3 separate regions of the Homo sapiens genome follow, and regions 1 and 3 are each linked to region 2. Evidence: fine-mapped expression QTL. A gene starts in region 2. Each other region holds a variant in brackets. All regions are shown on one strand. Distances are between the middles of the regions.

Region 1 (5,000 bases), 69 kb after region 2:
GGGGTTCGAGACCAGCCTGGCCAACATGATGAAACCCCATCTCTACTAAAAATACAAAAATTAGCCGGGCCTGGTGGCGGGTTCCTGTAATCCCAGCTACTTGGGAGGCTGAGGCGAAAGAATGGGTTGAACCGAGGAGGCGGAGGTTGCAGTGAGCTGAGATCATGCCACTGCACTCCAGCCTGGGTGACAGAGCGAGACTCCGTCTCAAAAAAAAAAAAAAAAAAAAAAAAAATCGCAATAGGTGTTTCCATGTTATCCCTTCCAGAAAAGTGGCACCTCAGCTGCAGAGTTCTGACACTGCTCCCCTCCCCAGTACGGCCTTGCCCCTCCCTTGACACTGCCTTGGGAGTCAGTCACCAGGTCAATCTGTCCCTGAGACTGTCAGCTCCGCGAGGGTAGGCACGGGGTTCCCTGTCCATGGCTGCATTCCGATGCTAGCACACTGCCTGGTGCACAGCAGGCGGCTAACAAATGCTTGCTGATTGGGTCAGGCGGTTAACAACTGCTTGCTGATTGGGTCAGGCGTTAACAAATGCTTGCTGATTGGGTCAGGTGGTTAACAAATGCTTGCTGATTGGGTCAGGCGTTAACAAATGCTTGCTGATTGGGTCAGGCGTTAACAAATGCTTGCTGATTGGGTCAGGGAAGGAGGGAATGGAGGGTGGGTGTGGGGGAAGACTGTGGGGAGTCAACCATTGGAGACTGAGATTTAGACTTGATGGTGTCAGAAATCTCAGTGGCTGCGAAAGATTTCAAACAGTAGCTAGGTGTGGTGTGTGCTTATGCCCCTCACCCTCCATGATGCTGTTCAGCCCACTTCTCCAAGTTCATCTTCTGTCCTCTAGCAAGCAGCGCTTCTTAACCTGCCTTCCTTCCTCTCTTCCTTCCTTCCTTCCTCCCTCCCTCCCTCCCTCAAGACAGAGTCTGGCTCTGTTGCCCAGGCTGGAGTGCAGTGGTGCGATCATAGCTCATTGCAGCCTCCAACTCTTGAGCTCAAACGATCCTCCCACCTCAGCCTCCTGAGTACCTGAGATTTCAGGTGCGCCACTGCAACCGGGTTGCTGAAGCTGCTTAACCCTTTCCTTTCGGGCCTTCTCTTCTTTGCCTGGAAACCCTTCCCTATTTCCAGATGCTACTCAGAAGCCACTGTCCTGTGAAGCTTTCACTCTCAGGCAGCGTTAGTGCCACTGTCCTCCATCCCCAGGGTGGCTGGTAAACGAGAACACTGCCTCGTGTGTTCACACGTCCTCACCCCAGACGGATCGAGAGCCTGAGAACGGCAAGGGCCCCGTCTCCCAGCCTCGTATGTGTGCCATGCCAGGCCTTTTCTGGGTATGAATGAATGAATGAACAGACAGATGGACAGACAAGATCAGGAGCCAAAGTGGGGAAGTACGTGTGGTCGTGTGGGTGTAAGAGGCTCTAAAGCTTGGTGGGGTGGTGGCTTTGGCAAAGGAAAAGAAGAACCGAAGGACTTGGTAAAAGGGATGTGGGGGTTGAGGGAAGGAAGACTCGTAAGATGGCGGCCGCACTAACAGAAGTGGAAACCCGGAAGGGGAAGCTGTTTCAGAAGGAGGAAGGGTCCTTTGGTCCAGATGTGTGGAGTGGAAGGGCCGTGGCTGGGCTTCCAAGTGAGGAGACCCAGTGGCCGGGGCAGGTGCTAGACCTAGAGCCCAGCAAGACACCAGGGCTGCAGCTGGCAGCGGGCCACCACTGGCCTGGAAGGGAGAAGGGCTGCTTCTCTGGGGGAAGGGAGCAGAGGGCTGAGGCTGGGCCCAAGCAAGTGACTCCACATTTACAGGAGGCGGGAGAATGAAGGGCCAGCCTACACCAGAGAGTGGTCGGGGCAGTGCCTGCATCAACAGGGCAGCTGAGGGCTTGGAGAAACTCTAGACTGCAGAGGCCAAAGAGTCGGAGAGGGAGGCCTCTGGCTTTGGAATAAACCGTTTGGGGGGGCCTTTGAAGCAGGCTGCTTCTATGGAGAACATTAGGAGCCAGGCCGAGGCAGATGGAGTGTGGAGCTCAGGTCCAGGGCTGGCTCAGGGCATTTGTCAGGGAAGGGGAGGGAAGCTGTGGGGACTGGTGAGTCACTTCCCCTCCAGGGGGGCACCGAGGGCCTGTGAGTGGAGTCTGTGTCTGATGGAGGGGCACTCTCATTACTCACTGGAATTTCCAGCCACCGGGGACAGGGTGGAGTAGAGAGGCCCTGGATACTCAGGGAGTCACTTGTGTGGGGTTCAGGGATTTTGGGAAGAAGTGGGCGTCAGTCTCACCATGCCGTGTAGAGGTGTGGGGAACGGGGACGAGGATATCCTGGCAGACTTCCAAGGGCACCTCATGTCCTCTTGAGTGGAGGAAGGAACACAGCAGGGGCCTGTGGGGTTTTAGGCCCTTCTTCGTGTCACCTGCAGGTCTGACTCATGTGGGCAGCCCATGCCATGCACTTGGAGCCCGCCGGGCGGGAGACAGAAGAACCCGTGGTACCAGGCCCTGAGCTGGCATACTTGTGCCCTGGGGAATGCCAGGCCTGGTCGTTCCCAAGCCCTCGCCACAGCCTCACCCGCCCGCACCAAATGAGGAATTGTGGCTGAAAGGGCCCTTCAGATGCGCCCTGGCTATTTATAACCCACCCAGGCAGGGACAGGGGAAAACCAGGGGCTGGAAGGAGATGGGTGGGGTGGGGGTGTGCCTCTGTTGAACCCTGGTGGCACAGTTCCCTGATCAAAGGCTGTTAGCCCTGGGGCCCCTCAAGGGCTCACCCCGCAATCCCCTGCTCTGTATTTCAGCTCTGCAACAGGATGGAGCCTCTCTCCAGGGAGGGCAGCTTCTCTGCTGCCAATGGAATTGCATGAGCCCCACCTAGAGCCCAGAGCTTCTGAAGAATTCTGGGGGGAGTGGGGGGCTGTGGCCTGAACTCGGGCCACAGGTGTGGTTCATTTAGACGGCACCATGTTGTTTTAAAATGTTAATTATTTGCCATCGTTTTAAAATCAGGAGCATTCCTGTTAATAAGCCAGATTTTAGCTTATTTTGAACAGAGATCAGGCAGCCATGAGCTTGCGTTTCCTCCAGCAGCCAT[C/T]GGCTGGAGTGAGTGGTGGTTTCACCCTGCCCTACCTGGCTCGCTTCACCGGCTGGCCTCACCCGCAGGCCTCACCCGCACCCTCATGGGTGCCGTTTGCAACCTTTGCTCCATCGTTGGGTTGTAAAAGAGCTTTTCCCAGGGCCTCCTCTGGACTCCTCCTCCCATGGAAGGAGGTGTATGTGCATCTGGGAACTAGGGCCAGGGGGACCAGAATGTGGCCTCACTCCCTGCACAGTTGGGGGTTCTGCAACCATTGGAGAAGCCAGGGGAAGCTGGCTGGGAGTGGGCAGGGCCGGAGATGGTGCCTGTCCTGGGTTCTGTGTGCACTCCCCTTGCAGGATGGCTCCCTGCGGTGGGGTGGCTGGGGGGGCTGCTTGGAGGAGGTGGGGGTGCTGGTCTCAGCAGTGCCTGTGAGTAGGTGGGAGGCTGCTCAGAGGAGGTGGGGGTCCTGGTCTCTGCAGCGCCTGTGAGTAGGGGGGCTGGTCTGTGAGTGGGGGGGCTGCTCAGAGGAGGTGGGGGTGCTGGTGTCAGTAGCGTCCGTGAGTGGGGGGACTGCTCGGAGGAGGGGGGCTGCTTGGAGGAGGGGGATCCTGGTCCCTGTGAGTGGGACGCCCACCGCTCCTGTGCAGGACAGTGGTGGCGCCGCGCTCCTGCCTGGGGGCAGGTCAGGCCTGTCTGTTGCAAAGCCTGACTCCTCCAGCGGCGGCGGGACGCGGCTGTGGCTTCTGGGCGGGCCGGGGCCTCCCCTCCGGAAGGGGGCTCCGGCGCATGGGGACTCCGGGGTGGCTCTGGGGGTCGCCCCTGCTCGCCGGGCTCCTGGCTCGGCCGCGCGCGGGGAATGAAGATGCGTCTGGGAAGCGGCCTCCCCGCTCCACCCCACCCCGGCCCGGCCGCGGCCTCCTCGCTCCTCCTCCGCCGCAGAAGCCTCCGCCAGCCGCGGCCCCGCAACCCCAGAGGACGGGCGGCTCCACCTCGCGACGCGCGTTTCCTGTGTGTTCGGAGCGAGCGCGAGCCCGAGCCCCGGAGCCCGGGAAGGGCGGGCCCTGCGGGGCCGGGCGGGACACGGAGGAGGGCGCTGGGCTGCTGTGCGGCGGGTTCGCCTCCGCCACGGGCCGGGCACGGCGTCAGGGGCTGCCCGGGCCTTGCTCCCCCTTTCGCCGGGCGAGGACGCGCGAGGCGGCGGCGGCGGCGGCGGAGCGGGCTGGACTAGGTCCGGGATGCAGTCCCGGGTCGGGAGCCCCAGGCCGGGCGCGCGGGTGTAGACCTGCCCCCCCTCCCGCCCGCCTCCTCCCTCCTCCCTCCTCCCGCCGCCGCTGCGTGGACCCCGCTTCCTGTCTGCCCTCCGCGGGCTCCGGCTGCCATGGAGGAGGAAGAGGAGGCGATAGGCTTGCTGGACAAGGTTCTGGAGGACGAAGATGTGTTTCTCCTGGAGGAGTGCGAGCTGGGAACCCCGACCAGCCCCGGCTCAGGGTCCCCCTTCCTGGTGGCTGTGAAGGTGGGAGCGTGACACGCCCTGGGCGCTGGGGGGGGCCGGGCCGGCGCTGCCGAAGGTGCGCGGGAGAAATGGCTGATGCGGGCGCAGAGCGCGCGGCCGGGTGGAAGCCCTCGGCGGAGGGTCCCGGCCCCGGCAGCTGTTCCCGGGGGAGAGGGGCGGGCCTGCCTCCCCGACCGGTGTCCTCGGGGCAGTGGTGGCCGCCCCCTCCAGGCCAGCCCAGCTCAGGGCTCCGGCGGCTGTGCCAGGAGTCACCTGGCGCGCCTGTCAGCCCGAGCCTCGCCGCCTCCCTGGAGCGGGTGGGCAGGAATCCCCCGTTTCCACGGCAACCGCAAGAGAGGGGCCACCCTCTTCCCAGCCAGGAGACAGGGACTTGGTGTCTCCGAGCTGAGGCAAGAGGGTGTTTGCAAAGGGCAAGAGCCA
Region 2 (5,000 bases):
CTCTGTCTCAAAAACAAACAAACAAACAAACAGAAAAAGAGCATGAACAGAGTGCCAGGGTTCAAGTCCCAGCCCTCACTTACCCTCTGAGTGGGTTACTCAGCTGCTCAGGGCCTCGGTTTTCTGACCTGGAAAATGGAGAAAACAGAGATAACAGTGACATTCACGGTGAGATCACGCTAGTGAACGAAACGCTAAGCCGGGCACACAGTCGGTGTTCTGTGTTCGTTATCAGAAGTTTCCTCTGTAGAGCCCTCAAGATTTGTCTCTCCCTCTACCCTCTATCGTGTTGTGGAGTGGAGGGTCCGAGAGTGCCAGGATTGGACAGAATGTAGACAGAAAAAAGCAAACTATGGCAACGCGAAGGAAAGCAACTGCCACATTTTAGCTTGGAGGATGCTGAAAATAGCTTGTTCAAGCCTTTGTAGATAAAAATGTAAAATGTACGCAAATGTATGTGACTCACGCAGAAGCATACATCCATAGCTCCCTCACAGTCAGCGCCGGATGTGGCCATCAGGAAAACCCCACAGTGTGGGGAGAGGGCCCGAGCGTTCTTGCTTGTTGTTGTTTTGAGGAGGGGACGGTGCTGCTGCCTCCTGGGCTGGTGGCTCCTGGTGGCGGCAGCTCACGCCCGTTTCCACCTTTCCCCTGGGCTGTCTTCCGAGAGTTCCAGGTGGGAAGAAGAGATGCCCTTGGCCCCTCATGGCTCCTCCGGCCTCGCGGTCCTCCGAGAGCCTGCTCGTTCCCTTCCCATGCCGAAGCTCTATTTCTGGAGCGTCTCATTGGAGATGCACGCCCCCTCCCTGCCAAGCTCCAGGTGCCTGCTTGGCCCTCCCAATCCTGTGTGCTAGTCAGGGACGGTGGGAGGGTGACAGCTGCAGGGAGGGGCGGCAAGAGACAGCGCTGGTGCCTGAGCCAGGAGGATTGGGGCGGAGGGAGCCCTGGGGACGCAGGGACGGGCTAATAATATTGAAAACCACTTCTGCTGCAGCCACCTGTAGAGGCTTCCCCACCCAGAGCATCATCCTGTGCGTCTCCCAGGGGCTCCCCAGCCTGTGATGAGTGGGTGACCCCCATCTCCCCTGGGGCAGCTGCAGAGGCCTCTGCCCAAGCAGCTTATGGGGCTTCCTCTCAGCATCCTGGGGGAGGAGCTGCTTCTCCCCTTAAGAACTAGATGTGTGTGTGTCTGTTTGGAGTGATGAGGACCGACCCCCACACCCCTCCAGCGTTCTGCGGGTGCCGACCACACTGCCCCCGGCAAAGGCCAGGCTGACTTAACCTTCCTGGTAGGCCTCTGTAGGGCTGGGCTCCCAGAAGTTTTCCCCTTAAGCTGCCTGGGGATGGGGTGGGGTGGAGACAGCTCCGGTATCTGAAATGTCACTATCTGGGGTACCGGGCCCCCTGGGTGGGCCCCACTGCTTCCCTTTCCCTGGGTTCAGGAAGGGGCTTCAGCCCCACTGCCCTGGACCCCCCTGGCCTGACTCCCCTCCTGTCCTTCCCTGCTCCAGGGTCGCTTGGCCCAAAGAGGTCTGTGGGGAAGCTGCCATGGCTCCCACAGAATCAGCCCACAGGAGACAGGCATGGGGCCCCCAATCTCTTCACTGCCCTTGGGCGAGGGGGTCTTCCTTAGAGGGAATTTCGTCTCTAAACGGTCATTTCTCAGGCCTCTTGACCCGACTTCCCACCATTTCTAGGTGATGATGCAAACACGATGGGCTTTCCAGGCCGCGGCTCGGGGTCCCCAGGAGGGGTCCTGGAGGGGAACGCGTGGAGCCCTTGGGGCTTCTCCTGGCTCCAGTTTGTCCTCCGCCCAGGAGGGGCACATGTGGGACTGTCCTGGCCCCACAGCCCCCGTGACTTCGGTCCTCCCGGGTCTCCACCCGCCCCCCTCCATGTGTGGCGGGAACGGCCGCGCTCAGAGGTCAGGGGTGTGGAAAGGGACGAGCGGGGGAAGGTTCGGGAGGAGAGAGGCGCGTCCCGCGGCGCGCAGGACGTTCACCCCGTGGGTCCCGCAGCGGGTCTGGCTGGGGAGGGGCCCGGCCGCCGCTCCCGCCCGCGAAGCCGCGCTTGGAGATCCCGGGCGGGAGGTGATGTCACCCCTGTGGGCTCCCGGGCCCCCCACGGCACCTGGTTTGCGGATCGCCAGGATCCTGCTGAGCCCGGCGCGGGGGGGACGAGGGGGACCTGGGTCTGCGCCGCCGCCTGGAGACCCCCCGAGACCCCCGCGGCCCCTCCTCGCCCAGCGCCGGAGCCCCGCTGCCCCCTTAGCCCGGCCGGGGGCGTCCTGCGGAGGGCGGAGCCTCGAGCCGATTGGTCCCTCCCCGCCCCGCCCCCGCACCAAAGCCCCGCCCCCGCACCAAAGCCCCGCCCCACCACGAAGCCCCACCCCCGCCCCGCCCCCCGCGAAGTTGCTCATCGGTTCCGGGATCCGCAGCTGGGCTCGGCGCGGCCGCTGGGGCCGGGAGGGTTCGGGAGGGTTTTGGGGGCTCCCGCCCCGCCCTCGCCCCTGCCCCGGCCGCCCCGCGCTCCTCCCGGGGACCTGGTTCCCGGCCTCCTCGCCCCTCCGCGCTCGCAACTTCGGCCTCCCCCGGCTCCCGCCCGCTCTCCCTCCTTTGTTGCGCGATGAGGGTCGGGTTTCGGATCTGACCGAGCCGCCGCCGCGGGATGGAGCCGCTCAGCCACCGGGGCCTGCCGCGCCTGTCCTGGATCGACACCCTCTACAGCAGTACGTGTGCCGGGCGGGGGCGGGACCCCAGGATCGGGATCGGGACCCCAGGATGGAGATCGGGACCCCAGGATCGGGATCGGGACCCCAAGATCGGGATCGGGACCCAGGCACCGGGCTGGTCCGGGGAGCGCGGGCGGGGGCGAGATCGGGGTCCGGATCGGGGTCGGGTTGGGAATCGGGATCGGGGTCGGGACCCAGGAGCCGGGCTGGTCTGGGGGGCGCGGGCGGGGGGTCCCCAGAGAGGATTCCTGCGGTCCGGGGGCGGGGACCGTGGGCGGACCGAGCCGAGAGCTGCGTCCCCCCTCCCACCTGTTGTGAACCCGGCCTCCGCGAGCCTCAGGGGAGGGAGGCCCTTCTGGGTGCTGCCCCCGCCCCTGGACCGGCAGCTTCTCTGTCCAGGCTGAAGCCGAAAGGCCGTTTTGGGAGCAGTCGTTGGCACCCGAGTTTGCCACCCCAGGGGCACCGGGTCATGTGTGGTTCAGGGCCCAGGGGTTCGGTGCTGGGGTGGGATCGGGTGGGAGGGGAGACGGGGGGTGCAGATATCCGCGGGGGCCGTTTGGATGCGGGAGCTGAAAATCCCGGGCTCAGCAATCTTTCCTGCCAGCCTCATCACCACCCCCACCCTCATCATCACCACCACCCTCAGAAGAAAAAAAAAACAAACCTTCTCGAGTTCTCCACCCCCTCGCTCCCAAATCTCTCTGGATCATGTGATTGCTCTTGCATGGCCCCGGGGGATGCGTAACTGATCACGGGTAATGGTGTGGGGGGGCTTGGGGCGAACCGAGAGCCGCCCCCCGCCCCCACCACCGCACCTTGCTCCTGCTCCGTTGCTAGAAAGGCACCGCCCCTTCTCCCCACCCTTCCCTGAGACACCTTTCCCGAAAGCTCTCAGGGATTAGGAAGAGGGTCCTCCTGGGCTTACATAGTGGATTTCGCCCTTCCTGGCCCACGTGAGTGGGACCCTCCCACTCTCTCAGCACATCTCCCAGGCAGGAGTTGGGGGAGGCACGTGGGGCCACGTGGAGCCTGGTTCAGCCTGATTCTAGGCACTGGATGCCATGGAACAGGAGCGTTTTCTTTCTTTTTTTTTTTTTTTGAGACGGAGTCTCGGCTCTGTCGCCCAGGCTGGAGTGCAGTGGCGCAATCTCCGCTCATTGCAACCTCTGCCTCCCGGGTTCAAGTGATTCTCCCGCCTCAGCCTCCTGAGTAGCTGGGATTACAGGTACCCACCACCACTCTCGGCTAATTTTTTGTATTTTTAGTAGAGATGGGGTTTCACCATGAGGCCAGGCTGGTCTCAAACTCCTGACCTCAGGTGATCCACCTGCCTCAGCCTCCCAAAGTGCTGGGATTACAGGCGTGAGCCAACAAGGGCATTTGTAAGGGTCATCCCAGCTAGAGTTCCTTGATAAGTCATATGGGGGGGGTGGGGGGAGTAGAGAAGGGTGATGCCTTGAGCCCCAAAGCCTTACTCTGGAGGCTGTGTGGTACCCAACATTCAACCTCTGACCTCAGCATCCCCTTGGGTCCAGGTCATTCCCTGTATCTTCTTCTCCACCCGCCTCCTCCTCCATCCATGTTCCTTCCTCTCCTCCCCCCAGGAGCTGTCCTTGTGATGGTTCATTCTGCTTTGGTTTCTCAACATCAAAGGGGCAAAGCCGGATCCCCTGGGCATAGGTCCTGTGCCAGGTGCCGCCGCTCCATCTGCTCCTTCCCCTGCAGAGGCCAGCGTCGTTGGGTGAAGGTCAGGGCCCATGGCTGTGTGGCATGTGCGTGCACGTGCGTCTGCATGAATGGGGGCACACATCTGTTCGGAGCGCAGATGCAGATCAGCTCCTGACCCGGAGGCAGGATTAGTGGCCCTCTCTTAGCTGTGTGCTTGCAAACAGCCGTCATAACAATGCCTCAGATTCACGCGTGCTTATGTTCCTGAGTGTTTCTGGCTCTTTGCAAAACCCAGTTCTTGTTTCCCTATTTCCCGAAGCCTGGAATCGTATGGAACCCTGTCTCTAGCTTTCTCTGCAGCAGAAGACTCCTCTGAGCTGATCATTTCCAAGTCTTCCATACCCCACCCTCTTCCTCCCACGCCTGGAGCAAAAAAGCAAAATTGCCTGAGGCCACCTTGAAAATTCCTGACCAGAGGAATGCCAGAAAAGGGAATTAGGCCAAGGCCTCTTAGGGGGTTCTGTTGGGCAGCCCTGATTCAGGCAGATTGGCACCTGAGCTGTCTACCCTCCTGCTGCTGCCCTGGCCTCTGGGCGGCTCC
Region 3 (5,000 bases), 78 kb after region 2:
TATTCCCAGTGCCTGGCTCCCGGTGGGAATGGGTGAGTGAGTGGTGAGCCTGGTTTTTGATGAGACAAGAGACGCCCTGCAAAGACTGAAGAAACAATGTGAATTTCCTCATGGCTCTAAACTGGGAATTGTGGAGTCTGAGGAAAGCTGGAAAAGATGGGAGATGGAACAGGCCTTCCTTTGGTGGTGACTGAGCAACGGGTCTCCTGTTAGCCAAGTGCACCGAGGCTAATTTCCCATCCGTACGCTCTCCAACGCCTTTGCTCCAATCTCAGCCAAAACTGCAGCGTGAACGGGGCCCAGAGCAGGACTCTTGGGGCTGACTGTTGCCTCTTGAGGGAGGGTCTTCCTGAGTTGTCTTCCCATCAGAACCAGCCTTTCAAGAGTGGACTATGAATGGAAGTCTTGAGGGGAGGATCTTGCAGAAATGGGCGATTACAGGGCTTCCAGGGTCTATGCTCGTGCCAGGGGGGATGAAGCTTGTTTGTGGCTGGGGCTGCAAATCCCTTTCTTCCCCCCATCCTAGTCCAACCAGCTCTACAGTTACAGCTCACGGTGTGGCATTTGCTAAACCCTCAGGCAAAACCTTGGTTGGCAGGGAACAGGAGGGAGTGCTAGCCCCCAGCACAGGGGATGAGTTCCCATTTGTCAAGGCTGGGAAGCAGCAGGAAGACCCCTGAGGGTCTGACCTGGAGGGGCTGGAGCTGGGGGCTGTTCCAGGCTCTGATCTTGTCCCCCGGGGCTACGTGTGCTGGAGGCTGTGCAGGCCTCTGGCAGTCCCGACTCTCGGTGCCTCAGGAAGATGATAACACCTGCCAGGTTTTGAGACTCCGGTGAATTGAACCACAAAGATAGCTAAGCTCAGTTCCTGGAATTTGTGAAGCCGCCAATAAGTAACTATTGCCCTTGCCTGAAGCGTGGGGTCTGTCTTGCTTTTCTAATGCTGCTGAAACAAATCGCCACAAACTTAAGGGCTTAAAACCACACAAATTTATTCTCTTATACAGAAATCTAAAAAGGATCTCGGCCCGGCTCCATGGCTCACACCTGTAATCCCAGCACTTTGGGAGGCCGAGGCGGGCGCATCACCTGAGGTCAGGAGTTTGAGACGAGCCTGGCCAACATGGTGAAACCCCATCTCTACTAAAAATACAAAAATTAGTGGGTGTGATGGTGGACGCCTGTAATCCCAGGTACTCGGGAGGCTGAGGCAGGAGAATCGCTTGAACCTGGGAGGCAGAGGTTGCAGTGAGCTGAGATCATGCCATTGCACTCCAGCCCTGGGCGACAGAGGGAGACTTTGTCTCAATAAGTAAATACATAAATAAATAGATTAATTAAAATAAAAAGGATCTCCAGGGCTGCATTGCTTCTGGAAGCTCTAGGGCAAGCTTTTCCAGCCTGCGGCCATACGGCCCAGGACTGCTTTGAATGTGGCCCGACACAAATTTGTAAACTCTTAAAACATTATATATTTTTCTTTTAGTTCATCTGCTGTCGTTAGTGTTATTGTATTTTATGTGTGGCCCAAGACAGTCGTCTTCTTCCAGTGTGGCTCAGGGGAGCCAAAAGATCGGAAGCCCCTGCTCTAGGGGAGTGAGTTCATTTTATTGCCATTTCCAGCTTCCAAAGGCTCTCTGCATTCCTTAGCTCGTGGCCCCATCCTCTGTCTTCAAACCTACCAGTGTAGCATCTTCCAAGCAGTCCCTCACCACTACCCTGTCTCCCCGGCCCTCTCACTCCCCTTCTGTGGCCACGATGCCTCAGGGAAAGATGGCATTTTAGGCAGCAGGTAAAGAACGAACCGAAAGCTAGAGACCTTTGAAGATGAGGAGGCTGGTTCTCCTGCGTGTGGGGGAGACTGAGCGATGTCCTGGCTGTGGGAAAGACTGGAAGGGTAGGGACGGGCATCCGGGCCACTGCAGGTGGCTCATAAAGGATATGGTGGGCCCCATGTCCCAGTCTAGGGCCGAATCTTTACTTGTTTTTTAAATGTCTTTCCGGCAGGGTGCGGTGGCTCACACCTGTAATCCCAGCACTTTGGGAGGCCAAGGCGGGCGGATCACGAGGTCAGGAGATCGAGACCATCCTGGCTAACACGGTGAAATCCCGGCTCTACTAAAAATACAAAAAGTTAGCTGGGCGTGGTGGCGGGAGCCTGTAGTCCCAGCTACTCGGGAGGCTGAGGCAGGAGAATGGCGTGAACCCGGGAGGCGGAGCTTGCAGTGAGCCGAGATCGCGCCACTGCACTCTAGCCTGGGCGACAGAGCGAGACTCCGTCTCTAAAAAAAAAAAAAAAAGAAAAAATAAATGTCTTTCCCA[C/T]TAGAGTCTAAGCCACTTGAGAACAGGGGCCACTGTCTGTTTCCCATGGTATCTATAGGGCCTGGTGGACATTCAGTAAATATTTATTGAATGAATAAATAAATGGACACATAGCCCAGTGGAATCCCCAAGTACTCGCGTTTTGCGGTATTCATACTCGGTCCTTGGCAAGCATCGGGCAAGGTGGCACTCTTAGGAGTTGAATCCAGCTCTGGTGTGTGGGACAGGCAGGAGGAGAGGAAGAGAGGGAGGAAAAGTCGGTTCGAGAACCCAGGTGGAAAATAGATTGAGGGAAGCAAAACGAGATGTTACAGGAGGAATATGGGTGATTGTCTTTTCCTTTTATATTTCTGCATGTTTTGTATATTTTTTATAATAATATCTGACTTTTATCCCCTATGAAAGTGTCGCTTAAAATAAAAGGAAAGGGGAAAGGGGGGCCGGGCGCGGTGGCTCACGCCTGTAATCCCAGCACTTTGGGAGGCTGAGGCGGACGGATCACCTGAGGTCAGGAGTTCTATACCAGCCTGGCCAACATGGTGAAACCCCATCTCTACTAAAAATACAAAAAAAATTAGTCTGGCATAATGGCTGGGCATGGTGGCTCACACCTGTAATCCCAGCACTTTGGGAGGCTGAGGTGGGTGGATCACCTGAGGTCAGGAGTTCTATATCAGCCTGGCCAACATGGTGAAACCCCATCTCTACTAAAAATACAAAAATTATCTGGGCATGGTGGCAGGTGCCTGTAATCCCAGCTACTCGGGAGGCTGAGGCAGGGGAATCACTGGAACCCGGGAGGCGGAGGTTGCAGTGAGCCGAGATTGTGCCACTTTACTTCAGCCTAGGTGACAGAGCGAGACTTCGTCTCAAAAAAAAAATAAAGGTCGGGGGGGAAGGGCAGGGAAGCAGACCGTCCACGCAGGGTTTTGGCCTCCTTGCTCATGAGCTGTTGGCTGTGCTTTGCGTTTGTGCAGGTGGAAGCAGGGAAAGGCCTGGAGATGAGGAAGCTGGTTCTCTCGGGGTTCTTGGCCAGCGAAGAGATCTACATTAACCAGCTGGAAGCCCTGTTGCTGGTGAGTACAGTCCCTGCTCTGGGGCCTTCCGGTCCCCCCGCCCGTGTTGGGTGATGTCATGCTCTGAAGCTGCTTTTGGAGTTGGAGAGGAAAGGGGACCGTACCCGTCCCTCCCTGTGGACAGAGTCTGCAGCTGGTCTGCTTCTGGCTGGGCATCGGGCAGCCCGGGTCATTGCCAGAAAGGGCCTGTGCCTCTCAGCTCCAGCTCTCAAAAGGCAGGAGAAGCACACCCGGCTTAGAGATGGCAAACACACCTGTCACCCACGACCCTGGCATAGGGCATCGTGAACCCATCATGGTGCTCTGCCTGCCTGGGCGGGGGCCGAGCGCCTTCTCCACGCTGTGCTCTGGGCAGTCATTCCCAATCAATCCAGTTAAGAAGTCTCTGCCGTCTTGTGTCCAAGTCCTTCTACCTCCCTGGGTGAGGGAACCGTTAGTGCCATCCTGAGGCCCCGTGTCAGGAAATATGAGGTGGGAGGCTGTGTTCTTTTTTTTTTTTTTTTTTTTTTTAAGACGGAGCTTTGCTCTTGTCACCCAGGCTGGAGTGCAGTGGTGCGATCTCGGCTCACTGCAACCTCTGCCTCCCGGGTTCAAGTGATTCTCCTGCCTCAGCCTCCCGAGTGGCTGGAATTGCACGTGCACGCCACCAGTCCTGGCTAATTTTTGTATTTAGTAGAGACAGGATTTTATCATGTTGGCCAGGCTGGTTTCCAACTCCTGACCTCAGGTGATCTGCCCGCCTTGGCCTCCCAAAGTGCTGGGATTACAGGCATGAGCCACTGCGCCCGGCCTGTCTGTGTTCTTTTGAGAAGCGGCACAGCTCTGAGGCATCAGGCCAAGCTCAGCCCTCGGTAACATGCCTCAGTTCCCCTCCCAGATGGAGGCATCGTTGTGAGAGTCTGATTGGGAGGGGAATATGAAAATGTTTTCGGAAGATAAAAGTACTACACAGATGTGAGGTGGTTTTGCCTTGGAAGAAAGTGCTCCTTAGATGTGTCTGGATGTTATGCAGAGTGATCGTGGCGTGTCAATCTTTCTTTTGGGTATTTTGCAGCCTGAGACATAAGGTAATTGTCAGAAAAGGGAGACGCAGAAGTGTGGATCTGTGGAAGCTCATTCTTAACAAGAATTCTAAGATGCACATTTAAGTACTTGCCATGACGTGAGGTGTTGTCACACGTCAACCCTGAGATGCTGTCAGTGTCCCAGGGGACTTGACATTTATGTTACCCAGGAATGACTGTGTAAATGTGCAGGTGCAGGCCGGGCGCCGTGGCTCAGTGCCTGTAATCCCAGCACTTTGGGAGCCCCAGGTGGGCAGATCACTTGAGGACAGGAGTTCGAGACCAGCCTGGCCAATGTGGTGAAACCTTGTCTCTGCTAGAAATGCAAAAAAAAGCCAGGCGTGGTGGTGCATACCTGTAATCCCAGTTACTCAGGAGGCTGAGGCATGAGAATTGCTTGAATCTGGGGGCGAAGGTCGTAGTGAGCTGAGAGTGCGCCACTGTACTCCAGACTGGACGACGGAAGTGAAATTCCTCAAAAAAAAAGGCTGGGTGCAGTGGCTGACACCTGTAATCCCAGCACTTTGGGAGGCCGAGG

Which allele goes with the higher level. Alleles are on the strand shown, and positions count from the first base shown. SD is a standard deviation of normalised expression in the study named. Not every link is listed here.
In carriers of allele T in region 1, the expression in subcutaneous fat of the gene that starts at base 2,414 in region 2 tends to be higher than with C alone (moderate effect, 0.49 SD a copy in FUSION).

What was found. PIP is the estimated chance that this variant, and not a neighbour inherited with it, causes the effect.
Region 1: its variant is fine-mapped to the expression of ABR in subcutaneous fat (FUSION, PIP 0.95).
Region 3: its variant is fine-mapped to the expression of ABR in nasal epithelium (TOPMed, PIP 0.99).

What each region holds. Positions count from the first base shown.
Region 1 is chr17:1,108,514-1,113,513 of GRCh38, reverse strand. All of the region lies in intron 2 of ABR (ABR activator of RhoGEF and GTPase), which reads left to right. Among named protein-coding and RNA genes, the nearest start is that of ABR, 69 kb to the left of the region's middle. The variant C/T (reference allele first, on the strand shown) is at 3,083.
Region 2 is chr17:1,177,395-1,182,394 of GRCh38, reverse strand. ABR (ABR activator of RhoGEF and GTPase) reads left to right here and starts at 2,414. Exons shown (of 23, transcript NM_021962.5): 1 at 2,414-2,728. The coding sequence starts at 2,668. It overlaps ABR-AS1 (ABR antisense RNA 1), which reads right to left and starts at 768. Exons shown (of 3, transcript NR_187271.1): 1 at 467-768; 2 at 84-128. RefSeq lists an enhancer at 1,607-2,373.
Region 3 is chr17:1,099,035-1,104,034 of GRCh38, reverse strand. ABR (ABR activator of RhoGEF and GTPase) reads left to right here. Exons shown (of 23, transcript NM_021962.5): 3 at 3,300-3,398. Among named protein-coding and RNA genes, the nearest start is that of ABR, 78 kb to the left of the region's middle. The variant C/T (reference allele first, on the strand shown) is at 2,323.